Linked DNA regions of Homo sapiens. The protein of the gene in region 7 interacts with the protein of the main gene of each other region in a pairwise test. Each region holds a gene or a part of one and is shown on either strand. Other genes may lie near its edges.

What was found.
Region 1: the proteins of OTX1 (region 7) and RGS20 interact in binary tests that used the Homo sapiens proteins (3 or more experiments, as listed by UniProt).
Region 2: the proteins of OTX1 (region 7) and LASP1 interact in binary tests that used the Homo sapiens proteins (3 or more experiments, as listed by UniProt).
Region 3: the proteins of OTX1 (region 7) and SLC15A2 interact in binary tests that used the Homo sapiens proteins (3 or more experiments, as listed by UniProt).
Region 4: the proteins of OTX1 (region 7) and INTS11 interact in binary tests that used the Homo sapiens proteins (3 or more experiments, as listed by UniProt).
Region 5: the proteins of OTX1 (region 7) and CH25H interact in binary tests that used the Homo sapiens proteins (3 or more experiments, as listed by UniProt).
Region 6: the proteins of OTX1 (region 7) and RGS19 interact in binary tests that used the Homo sapiens proteins (3 or more experiments, as listed by UniProt).

What each region holds. Positions count from the first base shown.
Region 1 is NC_000008.11:53,887,372-53,890,871, reverse strand, and holds part of RGS20 (regulator of G-protein signaling 20), read right to left. Parts: intron 1-3,500. UniProt on the Homo sapiens protein: Inhibits signal transduction by increasing the GTPase activity of G protein alpha subunits thereby driving them into their inactive GDP-bound form.
Region 2 is NC_000017.11:38,876,558-38,880,057, forward strand, and holds part of LASP1 (LIM and SH3 domain protein 1), read left to right. Parts: intron 1-1,528; coding exon 1,529-1,623; intron 1,624-3,500. UniProt on the Homo sapiens protein: Plays an important role in the regulation of dynamic actin-based, cytoskeletal activities.
Region 3 is NC_000003.12:121,921,901-121,925,400, reverse strand, and holds part of SLC15A2 (solute carrier family 15 member 2), read right to left. Parts: intron 3,182-3,500; coding exon 3,099-3,181; intron 2,627-3,098; coding exon 2,540-2,626; intron 2,362-2,539; coding exon 2,272-2,361; intron 2,180-2,271; coding exon 2,135-2,179; intron 1,051-2,134; coding exon 1,018-1,050; intron 457-1,017; coding exon 368-456; intron 1-367. UniProt on the Homo sapiens protein: Proton-coupled amino-acid transporter that transports oligopeptides of 2 to 4 amino acids with a preference for dipeptides. Transports neutral and anionic dipeptides with a proton to peptide stoichiometry of 2:1 or 3:1.
Region 4 is NC_000001.11:1,314,661-1,318,160, reverse strand, and holds part of INTS11 (integrator complex subunit 11), read left to right. Parts: intron 1-2,542; coding exon 2,543-2,641; intron 2,642-2,722; coding exon 2,723-2,757; intron 2,758-3,198; coding exon 3,199-3,337; intron 3,338-3,500.
Region 5 is NC_000010.11:89,205,129-89,208,511, forward strand, and holds CH25H (cholesterol 25-hydroxylase), read right to left. Parts: upstream 2,190-3,383; 5' UTR 2,165-2,189; coding exon 1,346-2,164; 3' UTR 501-1,345; downstream 1-500. UniProt on the Homo sapiens protein: Catalyzes the formation of 25-hydroxycholesterol from cholesterol, leading to repress cholesterol biosynthetic enzymes.
Region 6 is NC_000020.11:64,072,681-64,076,518, forward strand, and holds the end of RGS19 (regulator of G-protein signaling 19), read right to left. Parts: intron 1,862-3,838; coding exon 1,787-1,861; intron 1,699-1,786; coding exon 1,464-1,698; intron 1,365-1,463; coding exon 1,173-1,364; 3' UTR 501-1,172; downstream 1-500. UniProt on the Homo sapiens protein: Inhibits signal transduction by increasing the GTPase activity of G protein alpha subunits thereby driving them into their inactive GDP-bound form. Binds to G-alpha subfamily 1 members, with the order G(i)a3 > G(i)a1 > G(o)a >> G(z)a/G(i)a2.
Region 7 is NC_000002.12:63,056,081-63,058,331, forward strand, and holds the end of OTX1 (homeobox protein OTX1), read left to right. Parts: coding exon 1-236; 3' UTR 237-1,751; downstream 1,752-2,251. UniProt on the Homo sapiens protein: Probably plays a role in the development of the brain and the sense organs. Can bind to the BCD target sequence (BTS): 5'-TCTAATCCC-3'.

The DNA.
Region 1 (3,500 bases), on a different chromosome or scaffold from region 7:
TAAATCTTATTAAAACTGCAGCCACCAGTCTGGGTAACATAGCGAGACCCCATCTCTACAAAACATTTGTAAAAAATGGTCAGGTGAATTGGCAAGTGCCTGTAATCCCAGCTACTCAGGAGGTTGAAGTGGGAGGACTGCTTGAGCCCAGGAATTCTAGGTTATAATGGTGCCAATGTACTCCATTCTAGGGGTGACAGAGGGAGATTCCATGTCAAAACAAAAAAACCCCCAAAACTGTTACCAGATCTGACCCATTCTAATACCTGCTGGCCTGAAGTGATCAGCCCTTCAGTCCTTCATCCTTAGACAGGAAATCCCTCCAAGGGAGATTCAATCCTTGCTGGTGGAAGAAATTACCAGAACCTACACAGTTTCTTTATATACAATGTCTACATATAATAAAAATTACTAGATATGTGAAGAGAGATAAAAATGTGATGAATAAAAAAATGGATACAGGCACACAGATGATCTCATTGGATTTAGTAGATAAGAATTAGATGGACTAAACTGATGAAAAGATGGGAAATTTCATCAGATAATTTAAATGTATTAAAATGAATCAAATTGGCATACTACATTTAGAAGAAAACAAGTTCTGAAATTAATAACTCACTAGATGATTTGACAGAAGACTCAGGCACAGAGGAAGACAGCTTAATTAACTAAAACACAGGTCAACAGAAAATATTCAAATTGAAGCAGAAAGATATGCGAAATGAACAAAACAGATCAGACAATAAGAGACATGAAGGAAAAAGGCCAACATATCTGTGATTTGGGTCCCAGAAGCAGGAGAGAAAGAAAGAAAACCAGACAAAGCCATATTTGAAGAGATATTGAGTGAAAATTTTCCAAAGTTGATGAAAGACGTCAATCCACAGATAAAAGAAGCTCAGTTAACCCAAAGGAGAATAAATAAAATGAAAACCACATATAGGCACATTATATTCACTGTGGTAAGTCAAAAATGAGAGAAAAACTTTATGAGGATAACAACAGGCTACCTTCAAAGAAGCATAACTTTCCAACAGAAACTAGGAAAGTCAAAAGATAATGGAATGAGAGTGTAAAGGCAGGCCAGACTGGAAGAAGAGATTTGCAGCACGTGCACACACACACACACACACACACACACACACACAGAATTTTGACAGATGGCTTGTATCCAGAATATATAAAGAACTGTGACAGATCAATAATAACAATAATAAAAGATCAGCGGCACAATAGAAAAATGGGCCAAACAGAAGTTCAAGACCAGCCTGGGCAACATGGTGAAACCCCATCTCTACCCCTTCCCAATATCCAAAATAAAAAAATTAGTTGAGTGTGGTGGTGGACACCTATAGTCTCAGCTTCACGGCTAATTGTGCCACTGCCTTCCAGCCTGGGCAACAGAGTGAGACCCTGTCTCAAAAAAAAAAAAAAAAAAAAAAAAAAAAAAAAAAAAAAAGAGAGAGAGAGAGAAAGAAAGAAAGAAAAAGAAAAATGGGCCAAAGGCTTGTAGAGGCATTTTAAATAGAAAATATACAAATGACTTGACCCAAAAACATATAAGAAGATGCTTAACATCATTAGTAGCCAGGGAAATACAAATTAAAACCATAATGAGATACCACTACACAGCCACCAGAATGACTAAAGTTAAATGGGCAAACAATACTAAGTACTGGTGAGGATGTGAAGCAATACACACTTTGCTGGTGGGGATGGATGTAAACTGATTTGGACTATGAAACAGTTTTGCAGTATCTACTAAAGCTAAACATACACTGGACTTATTACCCAACAATTTTTATCCTGGGCATATACCCAAAGGAAATAAGTTCATCAAAAGACATGAATGAGAATGTTCATATTAGCATTATTCATAATAGCTCCACACTGGAAACAACTAAAATTTCTTCAGTAGTGGAATGGAATACACTGTGGTGTATTCACACAAAGGAACGCTGCACAGCATTAAAAAATAACAACACGTACAACAACAAATGAATCTCAAAAACATAATGCTGAGCTAAAGAACCAGATGCAAATATTATACACTGTTTAATTACATATGAAGTTTAAAAGCAGGCACAATTGGTATATGGTGAAAAAAGTTATAAAAGTGGTTACCTGTGGGAGTGAGTCCTGAATGGAAGGAAGCGAGACGGAATCTTTGGGAGAGCACGGGGGGCTGAAAATATCCTATATCTTCATCTAGAGCCGTGGTGAGTGATTTTGGCCCCAGAGGACGCTTGGCAATGTCTAGAGACATTTTTGGTCATGGCATCCAGGGAGGGGCGCTACTGCATCATGCAGTGGGTGGAGATCAGGGATACTGCTAAACATCCTACAGGGCAATGGACAGCCCCCCTCAATAAGGAGTTGTTCAACCCCAAATTTCCACAGTGCTGAGGTGAGAAACCCTGATCTAAATGGTGGTTCTGTGGGGGTACACTTACATAAAGTTTACTAAGCTGTACTCTTAAGATGTGTAAACTTTACTGTAAGTTATAACTCAAGTAAATGAAGTTAAAAGCTGTCATAAACCTCACAAAAATACCAAATAGCTCCTCACTGAAACCTAACAAACACAGAAAAACTTTGTTTCAGTTTTAGAAATACTCTAATTCATTAAACAGTCCTAACAACTGAAATTTGCGGGGATTATAGTAGGTCAGGAAGAATTAAACTCTGTATGTAAAGTCCCCCTTAAATGCAAAGAAATATCTATACCTTTCTTTATGGCAGGAGATATATGAATTATATCTGGGTAGTCACTAGAAATAAGTATTTGTAAAAACACAATGAATGTATAATGGAAGACCCCATACATGTAAGATTCTTCTGGAGTCATCAAAAGATGAATAGAGAAAAATATACATATACCTTTTTTTTTTTTAAGTCAGGGTCTCACTCTGTTGCCCAGGCTGGAGGGCAGAGGCAAGATCATGGCCCACTGCAACCTCAGTGTCCCCAGGCTCAGGTGATTCTCCAGCCTCAGCCTCCCAAGTAGCTGGGACTACAGGTGTGCACCACCACACCCAGCTAATTTTTTGCATTTTTTAAAGAGACGGGGTTTCACTATGTTGCCCAGGCTGGTCTGGAACTCCTGGGCTCAAGTGATCCACCCGTCTTGGCCTCCTAAAGTGTGGGAATTACAGGCGTGAGCCACCACGCCTGGCCACATGTACTTTTTAACAGTAGTCTAATCTGAGTTCTCTGGATAATGACTTCCTGTCATTAATTATCAACATGACTTTTATACAAATTAAGAAATCTATGGGCGTGTGCTCTTGGGCTGCTCTCTGGCCAGCACCCTCTCCTGTGTCACCTCTCTTGTGTCCACAGTCTAACCCATCTCTTCATTTCCCTCAACCTCAGGTGGAGCCTCCACCAAAATGCAGATTTTTCCAAAAATCCTTACAGGGACGATCATCACCCTAGAGGTTGAACCCTTGGATACAACAGAAAAATGTAAAGGCCAATATCCAGGATAAGGAACGAAT
Region 2 (3,500 bases), on a different chromosome or scaffold from region 7:
TTCACCATGTTGGCCAGGCTGGTCTTGAACTCCCAACCTCCAGTAATCCGCCTGCCACAGCCTCCCGAAGTGCTCGGATTATAGGCGTGAGCCACCGCTCCCGGCTAGATCTGTTCTCTTTCTGTCATCACTCTCTTCCCTCCGTCGGCCACCCTGGATGGGCCCTGTGTCCCACATTCTCTTTTTTTTTTTTGAGACGGAGTCTTGCTCTGTCACCCAGACTGGAGTGCAGTGGCCTGGGTTCACGCCATTCTCCTGCCTCAGCCTCCCAAGTAGCTGGGACTACAGGCACCCGCCACCACGCCTGGCTAATTTTTTTGTCTTTTTAGTAGAGATGGGGTTTCACCATGTTAGCCAGGATGGTCTCGATCTCTTGACCTCATGATCCGCCCGCCTCGGCCTCCCAAAGTGCGGGATTACAGGCGTGAGCCACCGTGCCCGGCCGTGTCCCACATTCTCACACGCATGAATGGATTGGAGCTGTGGTTGGCACAGTGAAGCCCCTCTGCACCCCAACACACACAATCTCCAGTGTGAGCCCTGACCCCCTCGGCTAAGGTTCACACCTGCTGTGCCCAGCACCTGACATCTGAGTGCTCAGAGGTGCCAAGTGCTGTGCTGAGGGCTTTGAAGGTGATTTCTCCTCAGTCCTGGACAATCCCAGGAGGGCCAGGTGTTATTACATCCATTGTACACACCAGGAAGTGGGCTCCTCTGAGGTGCAGGGCCCCGCCCAAGGCCATACAGTTAGTGGGGTAGAGCTTTGATGTCCACTATAGGGGTGTCCACCTTCAAGGCTTTGAAGTAGAGCCCTTCAGTGCCTCAGTGGGAGACCCGCTGCCGGGTGCTCTCCTGCCCTCCTCCTGGGGTGGGAGAGGATGAGGGAAGGGTAGAAAGGATGTGTTGTGTTGACAGAGCCTGGGACACCCAGCCCACTCCTCTGGCCAGGCATCCCACAGGAAGTGGGAGGTATCGGAGCTGTAGCACCACCTGGGGCTCATGTGGGGCTGGTGGGTGTGCTGGGCCCTGGTACAGGAGCTAGGAGCACCTGGGTTCTGGGCCTGGGTGTGTGGGGGCTGGGCCTTCCTCTTCTGAGGCCTTGGTGCCACCAGAGGAGCTGCTCCTTCATGTTCAGCGGCTGCTCCCTAGCAACCCAGCGCAGCTTTGCATAAGCAATGAGGCCTCGCCAGCTCTGGGCAGGAGGGGTTCCCTGGGGAGGGTGGAGCTGACTTGGGGGCTGCTGCCACTGCTATAACTGGGCTCTTCCCCCCTGTCCTTCATGCCTGCCTGTCTCTTCCTCCTGGGTTCAAATGGCCCATTGGTGGAGGATGAGGAAGGAGAGAGGGGAGGGGAGTGCCAAAGCCTGTGACCTGAAATGCCCCCAGCTCACCTGGGATGATTCCATGTTCTCCCCACAGCCATGGGCCTAGGACAGTCCCAGCAGCTCCTGAGTGCCCCTTCCTAGGGCCTGAGCCCCTTTTTCAGAAGTCCTGGTATCTGATGTATGTCCTCCTGTCTCCATCCCCAGTTCTGGCATAAAGCATGCTTCCATTGCGAGACCTGCAAGATGACACTGAACATGAAGAACTACAAGGGCTACGAGAAGAAGCCCTACTGCAACGCGTGAGTCCTGTTCTGGGCAGGGGGCTGGGTGGGCACCTTGGCTCCCTCCCCGAGTGAGTTCTTCCTTTCCTTCCAATAACCGCAAGGTGACATTGGCGAACACTTCCATCCCCTACTTGAACATCACAGTTTGTCCTCACAACAGCTGAATGAAGCAAGCACTTTTTATCCCCATTTAAAGTGCTTTTATCCCCCATTTAAAGTGCATTTAAAGTACAGATGAGGAAACTGGGGCTTAGGGAAGGGAAGAGACTCTCAAGGTGGGATGGCTAGGGCAAGACAGGCTCTAACCCAATTTCGGGCAGTAAGGCGAGCACGTTTCTTTCCACTGTCCCCTGCTACAAAAGAGGGGGCTTTCCTCGTGGTCTTTCAAGAATGAGTGACGTGTCTGTTGTATTTGGGGTTGAGGACTTTGTTCTGTTTACCTTCCCTTATTTCTCTCCTCAAAATCGACAGTTTCCTTCTCTCACCTGGGTACTTCTAGGCTTTGGGGGCTCCTTCCTCCAGTGGTTCCTTCAAGAAAACTCTCTGGAAGCCTCATGCCAGCCCTTTTGGTGTTCATTTTTTGAGAATGGGCAGGGGTGCATAAAGGGTGTTGCCTGGGCCAGATAGATCTCTTCCCTGCCTGGTGAGGGAGGCTGTGGAGACTGTTTCTTTTGAGTATAGTCATCTTGAGTATAGTGCAGCTCTGTTCCTTCTGCACTGGGACCTGCAGCAGCTGACGGTAGGGAGGGAGTATAGAGGTGGGGTCCCCCATCCCAGAGCCTGGAGGAATACCTCCCCTCCCATCCCATCCCATCCCATCCCATGCAATCCCAGAAAGTACAGCAATTTTCCATCTTCCAATTGACCTTGTGAGTAGCAAGTACAAACTCAGTGTTGGGGCCTCACAGCCGCCTCCACCTGCGAGGTGGAGGCTTTGGAAGGTCAAGTCACTTATAAGTAATGATGTAATGATAATTTCTTTTTCTTTTAATTTGCTTTTTTTTTTTTTTTTGAGTCAGAGGACTCATCACCCAGGTTGGAGTGCAGTGGCGCGATCTTGGCTCACTGCAACCTCCGCCTCTTGGATTCAAGCGATTCTTGTACCTAAGCCTCCTGAGTAGCTGGGATTACAGATGCATGCTACCATGCCCAGCTAATTTTTGTATTTTTTAGTAGAGACCGGGGTTTCACCGTGTTGGCCAGGCTGGTCTCGAACTCCTGACCTCAAGTGATGCACCGCCTCAGCCTCCCAAAGTGCTGGGATTACAGGTATAAGCCACCTCGCCCAGCCTTAATTCGATTTTTTTTTTAATTTTAACTTTTTTTTTTTTAACTTCAACCAACTCAAGTAATGGTAATTTCAGTGTTCACATGAATTTAGGATCTGACTTGAGTCCAGTTTTTTTTTTTTTTCTCTTAATTCTCAGTCAGGAGGCTCTTTGCAGCTGAAGTTCACCCAGGGAAAAAAAAATTTGGGACTTGTCTAAAAAGGGGGCTTAAACCTCCAGCCTTACCCCTAACCTTACCCCAAACCTTCCTTGCTTCCTTACCCCCTCCCGTTCCCTGGCTAAGACCACTCTTTCATCTTTTTAGGGGCTCGCTCATTCAGCAGACATTTATTGCCTGCCTGCTGCTATAATACATACTAACCTGCACCAGGTGCTGGGAAAACAGATTCCTGATAAAAATCTCAAGCCCAAGAAGCAACATGAAGTTGTCCCTTCTGGAAGAAGGAGGGCACTGGGCAGGTTATCTGGGTAAAGGAAGGGTTGCAGCTCTGTCCTGGCCCCTCCTTCAGCTGCCCCTTCTCTTCTATTAATTTCTACTGTTCCTCTTCCCCCTACCAACCCCTCCCACCCCCACAAGGGAAATGGGACATTCTTCGAATTCTT
Region 3 (3,500 bases), on a different chromosome or scaffold from region 7:
TTTAAAGGGATTAGTAGTCATCAAAGGCCTTGAGTTTCTTTGAAGAGACAACATTCAAGAACAAAGAAGAAAGTTGGTTTAGGAGCTAAATTTCACATATTTTTGGTTTGGCATGAAACCTAGACCTGCCCCTCCACCACCATTACACAGTTAAGTCCACAGTAATGGCTTTGACTCTCATTAATTATATCTAATTCACATTTTTCAGGGTCAATAGGCAGTTAGTCTAACATGGAAAAATAGAAGCAGATAGATGATAAACTAAAACCAATCCTCACTAAGAAAAATACTGACATTGAATCTTTTTCAAACTGGGCAAAGACTGAGTCAATTTAGAGTAATCCATACAGACATAGTGAACACTTACGAGAAGTTAATTCCACACTTGGAGACCAGACGATAAATGACAAAGTCAAACAACGGGATGAAGATAAGAACCAGAAGGGGATTTAGAACCTGTAACACCATGATAAAAAGGATTAGCTACAAATATTCTCCTATCATGAGTGTGAGCACTGCACTCATTTGCTTGTTTACACTCTGTCTCACATCTACACACACTTTTGTCATTGTAAGTACAGAATGACTCCACATTCCTCAGTCCATTTACACCCAAGACCCTATTTCCCTTGCATAGCATTTTAGCTTTCAAATATCCCAAGGGACAAGTTTCACTCTGAGCCTGTCTTTCTGCCAGCCTTATTGTGAGCTCTTTCCTCTCATGACTTCATTGCTCACAAAATAAGCCTTACAATTTCTTTTACAAGATTTTGATTATACTATCTTGACTTGGAAAAAAATCCAATGCTTACACTTAACCCGTTGCAAGTTAAGTACTTAACAGGGGATGTGAAGGAGAAGGGTGGGGCTTAATGGGAATGTTTTCATGTCGAAGCTTGGCCCTTATCAGCGTACAAGGAGAAAAGCATCAAATTATGGTTGTTAATCGTAATACTGCAGGTGGAGGCATAGATAAGGAAACAAATAAGTCCCCATGGCTATAGAAGAGTCACATACCTGCATCTGGTCCGGCTGAAGCACAAAAAACCCCTGAAACATTTTAACAAATTAATTTAGTTGATGTCTGAAGAAAAGAAAAAAAAATGTTGGCCTAGATCAATAATTTTGCTAGTTAGCAAGTGAGAAACATATGAGAGAAAATTCATCAGGTCTTTGGTTCAGGGCCACTATTTTGCTGTTAAGATTATTTGGGGGATGGGAACAGACTTGGGAAAGCTTCTGGCTATGTTTGCCAGGCAGATGGGCCTAAGGGAGAAATTATTTTCTATGTATTATGCTTTCCTTAACTTGAAAGAGAATAGAGTCAGTGCATTTTTATTGATCTCAGCAACTGCAGTTCTAGGTTGTAATAATATGAAGGGCAAGACATCATGGTTAGGGTGAAGACTCTCCCTGACACATAGTGTTTCCAAAGTTGTTCTCCAGAGGGTCAACAAGAAGACCACCATGGTAAATAAGAGACAGCCAGAGGAAGGGAAAAGGTAAAATTATATTTTGCAGGCTCCAAATAGACTGACTAATAAGACCCTGGTATCATTCTACTCTGTCTTTTCAAAAACTGAGAAGATAGAAAAATAATACACTAATCTAGGAAAAGAACAATTGAGAGTAGAGATGGTACCTTATTTGAGTGGGCTAAAGAATGGAGTTTGGAAAAAGAGAAAATAATACGTATAACCTTCTCATTCTTTCCATATCCATACATACAAAATATTCCATTTCCCACAGGTCCCCTGCTGTGATCCTTGTTGAAGAGATAGACCAATTGCGTAGTAGTGCCACTCAAACCTGTCCCTGCTGTACTCTGGGATAGGCTTAGACAGAAGAAAATCACTATCCCAGGTTACGCATCACATCATTTGCTAGCCTCTCAATACTTCCTTGTATACATTGAAACTTTCTCATCCTTATGTTCCTGATTTCTAAAGAGAAGATTCTGGTTTTTATTTCTAAACTAGCTTTCTTTATCTTTGCCTACACGGTACCTTCAGGCTAAAAGCACTTCTCTGAAGATCTTGTTAGTTTTCAGGCAAAATCACAAAGAAATTAATTTTTCCCCAATATGGATGATGAAGAAAATAATAGACTTCTCTGGAAAATCTCTTCTACTCACCAAATTCCTATTCATCCTGATGGCTTGCAAAGTCCATCGTGAACCCTAGGGCAAACAGATCCTGTTATGAGAAATCCCTTTCCTGTGAGAGGGAAGTGGCTGTAAGGAGCGGTAATGTCCAAAAGAACTATTCTTACCTGCTGATCCAAAAGAGCCCAGAACATGGGCAATGGGATATAAAGGAATAGTACCCTGGTCAGTGCCTTTACATCCATAATGAGCTGCTTCTGCGAAAAGGAGGAAGAATGGGCAGAAATGCTAGAAGTTCTGTACATGGCTTTCTTGCTTAAAGTAGAAGTGTCCAAAAAACAGTAGAGAGGAGGTTGAATGCAGTAGGATAGAATCATTTTGAACATTAGGAAAGACTCTATCAAGCCATAAGATGTTTCTGCATTTCCAACTTACTGGATATTTCTCAGCCGCCCAGTCTAGCCAGTGCTGTCGCTTTGGAATGTCTCCAGAACGGTTCTTGAAACGATTGGAAATAGCAAACTAGGGCAGAGAGTAGACATCATGGGAGAGACAAAGAGAAAAACATCCTCTGCCTTTTCCAACTTATTATACCTTCCTTCAAACACCATACTTCTAGTGACTTATTCCAACTCTTTGACCTAATCAGGCATTGAATTTCAGAATATTTCTGATATAATTTTATCTATCACTTTAAGAAAGAACTTGCCATTCAAAACAAAAAATAACAACAAAAAAGAAAAAATGTTATCTGTCTATATATAATTACATTTCAGAAGATTTTTGCCAACTTAAAAAGATGATTACTTTTTTTAACTTAATGGTTAAGTAGAGGCATAAGAAGAAGACTGGTTAATCTTAGCTTGTTAAAAAACATGAAAATAGAATAGAGGTCATTGAGAAAAATGTATGCCCACGTTTGAAGGCCCATATTCTCAGCATAGCATCTCTTTCTTTTGATTGAAAAAGGCAAGAAAACAATTTATGGACTTACCCAGATACATTTGAAAACTTGAGCCACTATGTTTCCTTCAGGGGGTGGTTTATTGTATATTTTGCTTCCCATTGCAAACACAACTGCAGTTGATACACAAACAAGGTTCTTAGCTTCTCATTTATTAGGTTGGTGCAAAGGTTATTGCAGTTTTGCCATTACTTTCAATGGCAAAAACCACAATAACTTTTGCACAAACCTAAATAGCACATTCAGTATATCAGCGCTAAGGACAGAATGCTGAACTGTGGGAGTGGCTGGCAAATCTCATAAAGAGGGAGCTGACTTACATTTCCTGACTTTTGGAGTTATCAAAATTGCAGGAGCCAAGAGAAGACAAAATGGTATGTTGTTAAGAGAGATATCTATTGAGACTTTCATGTAATCACAGAAGTGGAAGTC
Region 4 (3,500 bases), on a different chromosome or scaffold from region 7:
CGGTGGCTCACGCCTGTAATCCCAGCACTTTGGGAGGCCGAGACAGGCGGATCACGAGGTCAGGAGATCGAGACCATCCTGGCTAACACGGTGAAACCCTGTCTCTACTAAACAAAATACAAAAAAATTAGCTGGGCGTGGTGCGGGCGCCTGCAGTCCCAGCTACTCGGGAGGCTGAAAGGCAGGAGAATGGCGTGAACCTGGGAGGCGGAGCTTGCAGTGAGCCAAGATCCCACCACTGCACTCCAGCCTGGGAGACAGAGCGAGACGCGAGACTCCGGCTCAAAAAAAAAAAATTTATTTGCCTGCAAATGGATTTACTTTATCCTCGTTCTTAAAGGACTTTTTTTCCCTTAGGTGTGTAAGATTTTAGGTTGACAGTATTTTGTCTCTGCACTTTGCAAACAACGTTCTGTCTCTGGGCATGGGCAGCCGTAGGGTCTGAGCAGGAGCCTTGGTTTTTGGTGCTTGTGCTCTGATGGGCTGACATGTATCCTCAGCCTGTTTAGAGTTTGAGGCCTCTTGGATCTGTGGCTTGAGGCCTTCATCATGTTTCTTCCAGTGTTGTTTCTGCCCCGTTCCTGCTCCTCCAGGGACCCCGAGAGCCTGACGTTCAACCTCTTGAAACTCCGTCATCTGTTTGTCTTTCCTGTTTCCTGATGGATATTCCCTCTGGTGTCTTTCAGTTCATGGATTCTCTTCTGGTTATGTGTCATATGGTGTTAAATTCATCTGTTGAATTCTTTTTTTTTTTCTTTTTTTTTTGAGATGGAGTTTCGCTCTCATTGCCCAGGCTGTAGTGCAGTGGTGCGATCTCAGCTCACCTTGAACCTCCGCCTTCTGGGTTCAAGCGATTCTCCTGCCTCAGCCTCCCGAGTAGCTGGGATTACAGGCGTGTGCCACCACACCCAGTTAATTTTGTATTTTTTTTTAGTAGAGACGGGGGTTTCACCATGTTGGTCAGGCTGGTCTTGAACTCCTGATCTCAGGTGATCCACCCGCCTTGGTCTCCCAGAGTGCTGGGATTACAAGAGTGAGCCACTGCGCCTGGCCAAAATTTTGTTTTTAAATTAGCCTGGCGTGGTGGGTGCGTGCCTATAGTCCCAGCTATTTGGGAGGCGGAGGTGGAGGCGGGAGGACGCTTGAGCCCAGGAGTTTGAGTGAGCCATGATTGCGCCACTGCAGCCTGGGTGACAGCCCCACCCTGTCTCTCAATTTTATTTATTTATTTTTTTTTGAGACACAGTCTCGCTCTGTCGCCCAGGCTGGAGTGCAGTGGCGCGATCTCGGCTTACTGCAACCTCCGCCTCCCGGGTTCAAGCAGTTCTCCTGCCTCAGCCTCCCGAGTAGCTGGGATTACAGGCGCACACCACCACATCCGGCTAATTTTGTATTTTTAGTAGAGACGGGCTTTTTCCGTGTTGGTCAGGCTGGTCTTGAATTCCCAACCTCAGGTGATCCACCCGCCTCAGCCTCCCAAAGTGCTGGGATTACAGGCATGAGCCACCGCACCCGGCAAGTTTTAAATGAATAAATTAAATTTAAAAGAAGTCTAGTTTTTTGCCAATTTTTGTTTTTGACACTCTCGCTCTTGTTGCCCAGGCTGGAGTGCAATGGCACAATCTCAGCTCACTGCAATCTCCGCCTCCCGGGTTCAAGTAATTCTGCCTTAGCCTACTGAGTAGCTGGGATTACAAGCACCCACCACCATGCCCAGCTAACTTTTGTATTTTTAGTAGAGACAGGGTTTCACCGTGTCGGCCAGGATGGTCTTGAACTCCTGACTTCAGATGATCTGCCCACCTTGGTCTCCCCAAGTGCTGGGATTAAAGGTGTGAGCCACTGTGCCCAGCCCAGTATTTTTTTGTTTGTTTTTACCGAGATGGAGTCCCGCCCCATTGCCCAGGCTAGAGTGCAGTGGCGTGATCTCAGTACACTGCAACCTCCACTTCCCAGGTTCAAGCGATTCTCCTGCCTCAGCCTCCTGAGCAGTTGGGATTACAGGCACGCACTTCCACACCTGGCTTACTTTTGTATTTTTAGTAGAGACGGGGTTTCACCATGTTGGCCAGGCTGGTCTCCAATTCCTGACCCCAAGGGATCCACCTTAGGCCTGGCCGCCAACATTCTGAACCTTGTCTTTTCTCTGTCATGTATTCAAAGTCCACGCTGGAAACTCCAATTTCAGGTCCCTTCAGTTTTTTGTCCGTTGTCTTTCGTTCTTTGTCCACGTTGCCCGTCCCTTGTGAACTGGATGCTGTGTGTGAGCAACAGGGACTGAAAAGCTCAGTGCAGTGCCCTCGCTCCCCGCCCCGCCTCCCTCCCTGCCCCCGCCCCCCTCACTCCCTGCCCCTGCCTCCCTCGCTGCCCGCCTCCCTCCCTCCCTCCCCGCCCCCACCTCCCTCGCTCCCGCCCCCGCCCCCTCGCTCCCCTTCCCCCACGCTCCCCACCCCCGCCTCCCGCGCTTCCCGTCCCCCGCCTCCCTCACTCCCCGCCCCTCTGCTGTGAGGACACAGCCTGAGCGCAGCCCTGTCCTCCACAGGTAGATGATGAGCTGGAGATCAAGGCCTACTATGCAGGCCACGTGCTGGGGGCAGCCATGTTCCAGATTAAAGTGGGCTCAGAGTCTGTGGTCTACACGGTCAGTGGAAGGGCTTGAGGCTTGGGAGGGGCTGCTGGGGTGGGAGGCACCCTCCTCATGGCATCCTTGATCGTTCACCAGGGTGATTATAACATGACCCCAGACCGACACTTAGGGTAAGTAGGCTGAGGTGTCTTTTTGTCCCGTGGGCCCCCCTGGAGCTCAGGACCCTTGCAGGTGTCAGGGTGCCAGCCCTTGAGTGGCCAGCCTGGCAGTGTCTCCCATGTCCTGTGCGGCCTGGAGAGCCCCCTTCGTTCTGGGCCCAAATGCGCGAAGGCACAGGGTCCAGGCAGGGGCCTCTGTCCCTCCTTCTCTCTCTTCCCAAGTCTCTGGGTGGGTGCCTCTGTCTCGCTCTTCCGAAGTGTCTGGGTGGGTGCCTCTGTCTCTCCTCTCTCTTCCCAAGTGTGCTGCCCACAGCATTTTACCAGCTGGCTCTTTCCAGCCAGAGTGACCTAGGAAGGCGGCTGGGCGTGGTACTGGGGTCCAGCTTGTCACACCCAGCCCTGCAACCGTGGGGACAGTGCATCGTGGCTCACACCCCCACCCCCGTGTTCCAGAGCTGCCTGGATTGACAAGTGCCGCCCCAACCTGCTCATCACAGAGTCCACGTACGCCACGACCATCCGTGACTCCAAGCGCTGCCGGGAGCGAGACTTCCTGAAGAAAGTCCACGAGACCGTGGAGCGTGGTGGGAAGGTAGCTGCAGCAGGGGTGGGGACATGGGCCCTCGGCCATGCTGGGCTGGTCTTTCTGGCAGGCTTGGCTGCCCTTGGCATGGGTCAGGGTCTCAGGGTGGGGGGTACTGCATTTTCAGGCAGGGAGGGAAGAAGATTTGCTCAACATTGAGGAGGAAAACTCA
Region 5 (3,383 bases), on a different chromosome or scaffold from region 7:
CACAAAGCTGCCATTCTTTATATTGTGTCTAAATTGTCTTGATTTTTAACTCTACACTATATATATTCCAAAAACAAAACTAAAATGAATAGGCAGGAGTTAGATGGGGTGAGTGATGGGTGATGGGTGTGTGGTTAATAATAGGAATATTTACTGTCATCTGCAAGAACATCTGGGACACCTCCTCCTTTTCCACATGAGGAATCAGGGATCCAGGGCCAAATTTCACTTTATCTTTCTTTTAGAAAGGGCTGTACCTGCTGCATGTATGTTTTAATTAAGAAAACTGAATATACAGAAATTCCAGATTTCAGAAGCAATGCTTTGATGTTCATTTGCAGTAGCTATGGATGGATTCATGAAAACAGGGGCTTCCTCAGAATCCCCTTGCACATCTATCAGCCACTCTAGTGTATACTATTGACTCACCAGTTTTGCAAAGCAAGGCACGCCTCCAATTCTGTTCTTCCCCTAATCCATTCCCACAAATAATAAAATGATTGACTGCTCAGCGTTAATCTTTCTATGAAACTTTACAGAGTAATCCTATCATTTGCCTGTTATACAGAAATCAGCTGAAAAGCATTAAGAATATTAGCGTGTTTTTCCTCCATGAAATTGCTAGAGCACAACAAACAGAGCCCCTTCTCCTGCCTCCTTTTCTCTAACAACCCCCAACAGAACACCCTACACCCAGATTCCTCTCTTTCCATGGTGAGGCTGATGGAGGCTTAGAAGGACACTTGGTATGCCCGCTCCCTCTTCCCTTTTTTATCAGTCAAAATACCAGTGAAACGGAAGTCAATACTTATTTGATTCATGGTTTTTTTTCCTTTTTAAAGCACGAATAACATTTCTTTCAAAATAAATATACAGTTCTATAAAAAAATATAAGAAGGTACTATAATTCTTGGTCACTGTCCAGCAGAAACATGTTTGATTGCTTTTAGAGTCAGAAGTCAACACCATCCACAAAAATACATTCTTTTAGCCAGGTTTTAGAACACTTTGAAACATAGAAAATTCCTTATTCTACAAACAAGTCCTTTTAGAGATATTCTAAATATGCCAGTGATGAATGTCTAATTCATATGCAGGATTCAAGGCTATTGAGGTGAGCTAGACTAAGAATACCAAGAACACAAAATTGTATTGATACACAAACAGTATGTAAATTACTTTGTCAGATTACAAAAATGCATCAGATTTTATCTATGGTTTTCATAGATAAACATAAAGCAATAAGTTAGTTGCTTTAAAAAAATATATAGCTCAGGTGTTTCTCTTCATTCAAGTGTGAAAGGCACAGCAGTCCCGAGTCTTAGGGGCACCCACCGCAGCCACATCACCGCGCTGGGACAGATGCAGTCCGCAGCGTTCCCAGTATTTTGTCCCAGTGTGTAAAGTACGGAGCGAAGTTGCAGTTAAAGTGAGAGTGATGCAGGTCGTGGTGCACCACACCCCCGTACCACCCGAAGGGCACCAGTCTGTGAGTGGACCAAGGGAAGTTGTAGCCGGAGTGGTCCTCCACGGAAAGCCAGATGTTGACCACGTGGAAGGTCAGGGTGGTGAGCGGGTGGCACCCGAGCAGTGTGACGTTCATCATGTCGAAGAAGCCCAAAGAAAACAGTTCCCAGACGCTCATATACTGCGTTGCCAGCGCGAACGAGGACGAGTTCTGGTGGTGCACCTTGTGGAAGGTGCGGTACAGCCAGGGCACCTTGTGGTGCAGCAGGTGCCACACGAAGAACTCCATGTCGAAGAGTAGCAGGCAGAACAGGATGTGGTGCAGCAGCAGGAGCAGCTCGGGAGCTTCGTGGGGCAGGAGGGCCGGGCTGCGGGCCCAATGCAGCAGCGTCACGGGGAACACAAACATCACATGCTGGTAGAGGGTCTGCCCCAGGCAAGGTAGCAGCTGCTGCGCGGATGGCGAGAAGTCAGGGTGGATCTTGTAGCGCCGCAGGGCGGGCACCCAGGAGCACAGGATATCCAGGACCACGAAGGGCAGGCAAAAGCCCACGTATGTGGTGATGGAGAAGATGACCGGGAAGAAGGGCGACTGTAGGAGGGCCTCCCAGCTCCTCAGGTGGTCCCAGAGGGGCTGCAGGAACAGCTGCCCGGAGCTGCAAAGGACCTGGGGGTCGGAGCAGTTGTGGCAGCTCATTGCGAGGCTGTGCAAGGCAGCTGAGGCTGCTGCTCGAGTCCCATCGACTTTTCACAGGACTCACGGCCCCGCCCCGAGTGATGTCAGCTGCCTTTCCATCCCTTTCCCGGCGATGCGAAGCTTGAATAAGCTAGCAACCCGGCAGAGTGGCCCTTCATTGCTGTAAATGTGCTCATCTATAGCCGCATCTTACCGGCTTTTAGATATGCGTGTATGCAGTGGCACTTCGTACTTTTCATGTAAGTTCTGATTTTTCAGTTGACGTACAATTAACACGGGACACAATGTACAGATCTACCGTGTGGAGTTTCTATGAGTTTGGCAACTCAGTTCACGTGTGTCATCACGGGTCTCAAACTAGACCGTTTACATTGCCACCAGAAAGCGCTCCTTTGCAATCAATGCAGAATTGTTTGTGTTTTTTAATGCATACGTATAACTGCATCCATGTGCTTTCATAAAGACGCAAGCATAATCGCATTTTAAAAACTGTTTAAAGCTACATGCGGTCTGTAGCTCGGGTGTTTTCTGAGAACCCGGTTGCGGTCTATCCAGCGGCGATCGAGAAACGAGCCCTTTGCACAGGGAACCGCTGGTCCCCGAACGCCGGCGGTGACCGTCAGCTCAGGAAATCAGACGGGAAGGGTGGCCGGATGGGAACCTCCGCCAGCTCCAGCTTGTCCCCAGAGTTTTCCTGGCCGGCGGGCAGCAAGCTAGAGAGACCACGCACGCAGGCTCTCCGGGAGAGGCCGCAGCCCGGCCGCGTAGCTACCCTCGGCGGCGCGTCCCGGGGCGCCGGGCCCGCGATCGGAGCCGGAGGCACCGCACAGCGGAAAGAGGGCTCCGCGGCGGCCAGGCTCAGCTTTGCCGGGAAAATGCTGGATTTAACTCCCAGTCTGCGCCAATCTGGCTAAAAAGCCCGTTGTATCTCAATTTGGGGCGGGAACACTTAATTCAGCAAACCACCTGCGTTGTTCGTCAAGGGAAAGAGATGTGAGTTCCTGAAGCCTCCCGGGAGGCTATTGAAGGACCAGGTGATGTCGTCACTACCCTACCCTTCCCCTTGTTGGCTTTGCGGGGCCAACTTGCAGTCGCCCTCTGCCACCGGTCCTTGAATCCACTCCGGGCCCACGGAGCCCGGCTAGGGGGCTAGTCTCTATCCCCTGCGTTTCTCCGCCACCCATCTGGGGTCCTCGGGCCAGGGGCCACCGAGCACAAG
Region 6 (3,838 bases), on a different chromosome or scaffold from region 7:
GGCCCTGAGCCAATTTCAGCTTCAACTCACTTAACTTCCCAGAAATGCAGGGGATGGGCTGGTGAGCACTCAACTCATGGGGCCTGTGAGATGAGAAAGATGACATTGGGCCTGGCACCAAGTGGCCCCTCCTGCCCCAGCCAGCCTGCCTCTGGGGACCCCGTCCGGCTGGGCCTGGGCGGCACCTCCTGTTGCCTCTCGACTTCTGAGGTGCTGTGGGTCACTGTTCTGGCCCGACTTTCAGCTAAGGAGGCTGAGGCCGAGGGCGTGGAGCTCATGCCCCGGGCAGGGTTAAGCACAGCCACCCACTGGGACCACTGTTCTGAGGAGGGGTCTGGTGGAGGCCAGGGCATGGGAAGAGGGCAAGCACACGGCTGTGTGTCCCCTCCAAGGGGCACTGGAGCCCCTGCCCTGGGACAAGGACACTTCTCCCCAGCCCTGAGTCTGGGGCCACTCATTCTCCAGTCTCTCCCCAGACTTGGACAAAAATGAGTAGAGACTTTGCTTTAAAAATATCTTCAATAATAAGACATCCTATTTTTGGGGGGTTAGGGATAGAGATAAATATGAAAACTTTTTTTTGATAAAACACCTAGTAAGGACATGTTTCCAGGTTTAAAGTTCATGAACATATAAAACAGAAATTGGGTCCTGCCACCTTGAGTGCAGGATTCTGAGGTCCTAAATCTGGTTCTGAGGTTCTGTGTTTGATTCTGGGGTACAGACAGCTCAAGTAGGAGGTCTCCTTATGTCACAAAACTACACGATGCGGAGGTTCTGTTCCCCACCAAAGGCTTGTCTGGGGCCCATTGGCTGCCTGGGGAGGAGGCCCCAGCGAGGCTCATGGGTCCAGCATGGCTCCTGGGGGGACCCCTACTCTCACCACGCAAGAGCCCCCAGCCAGGAGCACTGGGCCAGCCAGCTGCGGGCCGATGAGGGGGCTTCTGGCCCGCCCTGCACCTGGAGGCCCGCCCTGCACCTGGAGTTCCTGCTTGGCCACGGGTGGGCAGACCCAGGAGACACAGCACTCCCCACTGGGTCTAGGACCGTCTCCGCGGGTGGGGACCCCAGCCGGCCAGGCATGTGCCCTGACAGCCCTGCCGACAACAACACCTGAAGGGAACCCAGAGTCGGCCGTAGGAGGCGGCGGGGTCTGTGCTGCTGGGGGCGGCCTAGGCCTCGGAGGAGGACTGTGATGGCCCCTGCAGCAGCAGGGCACGGTAGGTGGGAGAGCTGAGGAAGCGGGGGTAGGAGTCCCGGTGCATGAGCGTGTAGATCTGCAGCTGCGCGTCGTCGAACGTGTGTGCGGACGGCTCCTGCATCTTCTTGTTGATGCCCTCCCGCACACGGGAGTCCAGGCTCACCTGCAGGACAAGACACTGAGGTCAGGGGGTGCGGGAGCTGCCTTCCCCACCTAGTGCCTGGAGCAGGCGGCCCCCGGCCTGTTCTGGTGTCTGGCGCACCTCCTTGGGGGACAGGATGGATACGTAGTCCTCGTAGATGAGCCTCGCCTTCTCGTCTACCACATGCTGGTTGGCCTCGGCCTTCAGCTCCTCGCAGGCCAACCAGAAGAGCATGTTCTCCTCGCTGTACTCTGTCCGCAGGAACGCCCGGAACACGCTGCGTCCCGCTGGGCTGTGCATCAGCTTGTCAAAAGACTGCGCCCAGCTCTGCACCTCCTCAGGACTTGGCGTGGCACTGTGGGCACGGGGGCCAGGCTATGTCAGGCCCGAGTCTCCCGGTCTGGGGCCCCCCCAGCACGCACACACCAGCCGGCTGGACTCACCATACTTCACAGCTGGGGAGGGGCTGCAGCTTGCTCTCCCGGGAGGCCTGCCACGCGCGCCGCCGCTCTTGGTTCCTAGTGGCAGAGAGGAAGCAGCGCTGCCGTGGGCACACACGCCTCCACGGCCACACAGGCCCTCAGCACATGGGCAGGCACCTGACACACATGGGCACCCACTGCAGGAGGGCAGCCCCTGCAGGCACCTGACACACATGGGCACCCACTGCAGGAGGGCAGCCCCTGGAGCTGGCTCTTCCCACACTCTCCCACACTCCCAAATTCCCCACAGAATCTGCAGTCCAGGTTACTGTCCCTGCCACAGTGCCCAGACCACAGACTCTGCCGTCTTCCATTCCAGCAGTGTGACCCAGTGCCCGCGAGTCTCTGGCCTTCCAGGAGGGGCCCTTCGGCTCCTGGTGTGCTCCTCCCCATCCCTGGCCCACTGGGCAACCTCCTCCACCCACCCATGCCCACCCCACATGAGGTTGAGAAGCAGGTATGCCACCTCCCCTTCTGCCTCTGCTCCCCTGGGGGAGATGGGGTGGGGCAAGATGAGGGGCCACAAGGAGCTGGGAGATCCCTGAACACCTGGGAGGCCAGAAGGGTCATGTGCCTGGGAACAGGGCCACCCATGGGAATGTGCCTGGGAACAGGGCCACCCATGGGAATGTGCCTGGGAACAGGGCCACCCATGGGAATGTGCCTGGGAACAGGGCCACCCTGCTCCTGGGCCTGATCTTGGCCTGTCCCTGTCCCACCGATGGGGTCACACGCTGCAGGTCTGGCGTGTCAGCAGTGTCTCTCGTCGGCTGACGCAGGTGAGAGCCCCAAACCCGTGTCCACACTCCTTCAGGTTCTGGAGCCTGATCCCCGGTTGTCTCAAGGGAAGCAGCTTCTTTGCCTTGGCTCCTAGCATCCTGTCAGTGCTGGACCCAAATCCATACCCGGCTGACCTCTCTCCAGGGCACTTGGATGGCTGGCAGACATCGTGCACCCAAACGTCCTGACAGAACTAGGCCCCTGGGCTCCTCCCACCCCCTTTCCCGACTGCCCCCTGGCCACCCCCAGCTTGCCCGTGGGTCAGCTGACGCCACCTTGGATCCAGAAGCGCTGTCCTCTCATCAGCCAGGGCCTGAAGCCTGAATAGGGCCAGGCTTCTGCAAGGTGTGAAAACATCCACCAGCTCCCCTACACTCCTAGGAAATCTGTTACCATCTGGGAGCCCCACTCCCACCCTCACAGGGATGCCCAGAGACGTCCCCGCCACCGCCCCCTGCTCTTCTTCCCCCACGCATGCTGTCCGGGAAGCTCTTGGCCATCGCCCCAGGGCCAGCAGTTCCCTTATTGGGGTCTCTGTTCAAACGTCCCTCCACCCCACACACTGTATGGGGTCTGTGCCTGTCTTTCTTTCTTTCTTTCTTTTTTTTTTTTTGAGACGGAGTTTTGCTCTTGTTGCCCAGGCTGGAGTGCAATGACGCGATCTCGGCTCAACGCAACCTCCGCCTCCCAGGTTCAAGCCATTCTCCTGCCTCAGCCTCCCGAGTAGCTGGGATTACAGGCATGCGCCACCACGCCTGGCTAATTTTGTATTTTTAGTAGAGACAGGGTTTCTGCACATTGGTCAGGCTGATCTCGAACTCCCGACCTCAGGTGATCCGCCCACCTTGCCCTCCCAAAGTGCTGGGACTACAGGCATGAGCCACTGCACCTGGCCTGTGCCTGTCTTACTCCACCGCAGGCCCCCAGGGCCTAGCCTGGGCTGGCTCACAGCAGCATGGATAAAGCACATGCCGCGTGAACGGGCACATGCATGTACACAGCACACGGACACACCCTTGGCAAGACAGGTACGAGAGCCATACATGAGCTCCCTGGGGCCAAGGCACCGGCCACTCATCACCAGGGCCCAACAGACCCTGGACAGGACAGTGCTGTGAGGTGGCAGGGGCATCCTGCCTGCGGGGATGCCTCGGAAGCCACCACTGGGTCCCCTCCTGGGTCTGCTTGGCCCCATGCCCTCGACCCCCTCGCCAGCTGGGCACCCCAGGCCCT
Region 7 (2,251 bases):
ATCACCACCCACATGCGCACCACCCGTTGAGCCAGTCCTCAGGCCACCACCACCACCATCACCACCACCACCACCAAGGCTACGGTGGCTCTGGGCTTGCCTTCAACTCTGCCGACTGCTTGGATTACAAGGAGCCTGGCGCCGCTGCTGCTTCCTCCGCCTGGAAACTCAACTTCAACTCCCCCGACTGTCTGGACTATAAGGACCAAGCCTCATGGCGGTTCCAGGTCTTGTGAGCCCAGGAATGAAAGAGGAGAAGAAACGCAACTACCTGCGCCCTCCGTGGTCCCGATCCTGTTGCTGCTGCTGCACCGCCCGCCTTTGCCTCGTCTTCTCCAAAACTGAATTTTCACCCCCCAAAAAGATGTCCATTGCCTGCACTGCCGCCCCCATTTTTGTGCCACTTGCTTGGGGGGATGTGCAAACCCACCCTGCCCCTTGGATGGGGGGACCGGTGCTTCGGCTTGGCCTACACATTCTATACAGGAGAGATGTATTATTTCCCCCCTTCAGCCCCTACTAAACTCTTAAGCCTCCCCTTCCAGTCTTTCTGGACAGCTATTAAGCACTTGCAGCCTTCGGAGGCTCTGCGCTCTGATCCGCTGTTTGAGCCCAACACTTTAATTTATTCTTTCTGGACACTGGAGTCACTAACTGGCGTGTTTCTGCCCATTGGAGCACCCGCACACTACTCCAAATCAAAACCACTAAGAGTTCCTCCCGCGCAGACTGCTGCCCCTTCAGCTGCCCTCGATTTTGCTCCACGCCTGCCGGCCAGAGCCTCCCGGCGTTTCTTCCGCCCCAGCGGAGTGCGCTGGGGCGCGCCAGGGCTAGGCCCGCCGGAGGAGCGCGTCCCCAGCCTTCCGCGCACAGAGCCGCATCCCGCCCCGCCCTGCGCTGGACTGGTTCAAGCTTCCGCCTCGGCGGGAACGCTGTACATAGTCAGGTCCGTTCCAGGGACCACTTAAACTTTTTAGTTGCTGTTGGTTGGTTGAACTGAACATATCTTGTCTTAGCACCCAGGAAACAGAACTTTAAGATATATACAGCACATATATATATATATACATATATATATACACATATATAAAAAACAAAAGCAAAAAATATTTTCCCTCTGTCCGTCCCCCTTCTGCTCTTCCTCAATCAATGGCGCTTTTTCTTTTTCAGTTGTTGCAAAGCTGCCCTGCCCTCTTCACATCTTCTCCCTCTGTGTATTTATTGAAGAGAACCGCTTGGTTTCAGGAAGCTGGGCGCGGGATATCCGAAGTGTGGAGGAAACAGACAAGTCAGGGTACAGAGGTGGGGGTTGGGCAGGGGCGCAGGGCTGACCCCCTCACCCGGTCTAAGCACAGGGTCGCAGTTCCAGTTTACAAACCTAAAACAAGAAAACCAAAACCAGGGAACAAAACAACAAAACAAAACAAAATCCGTAAAAGTACAGCATTAGGGAAAAACAAACAAACCCAGGCCCCAAACCCAGTTCCAACTCCTCTGTCGGCTTCTCTCTTTCAACACCCTTGTTTTGTCTAGTGAGTTTTTAGTGCACCTTCGTTCTCCGAAATCTGCGGAGAGCCCGCGCGCCTGTGTATCAATTTTGGCTTTGGCCGCTTCGTCCAGTAGGTGGGAAAGTAATTTGTAAATTTGATTTGTCTGATGTGAAGATCACAAATTACTTGTTGAAATGTAAGGCAGTCCCCCTCCTCCTCTTTATCTACATTACTTCCCGAAAATAAATGCAAATTAATGAACGGCTTGTCAGTGTTGCTCTTCTGATTCCAGCCCGAGGTCCTGGTCTCGGGGGGCTAAAAGCGAGGGAAACTCCGTGTTAATAACCCGCGTGTTAATGACCTGCGTGAAGCTGGAGGCCAAAGGATGAGGCGGGAGGACTTGGCAAGAGAAGTCCCCAGAAACTTTCGCTTAGGGAGTGTCTCCCCCCACCCCCACCACGCCCCTCCGCGTCAGCCTGGCCTCTTCCCCCAGGCGTTTTGACCCCGCATCCCCCCTCGCCATCCAGGACAGAGACAGGTGTCAGGACTCAATTCCCGAAGCAATTCCTTTCTCTTCAGAGGCAGGAGCCTGGCACTGATTTCTTCACCCTAATTGCCTGCACCAGAAAGAAGAGGGGGAGGGGAAGAGGGTCGGGAGGCGGGAAAGGATAGCTCTGTAATGCTCTCAGAGCTGAGCCAAAAAGGAAAAGAAAGCAAAACGACAAAAAACTGATCCGTGTCCTGCATGTTGGCAGCAGACA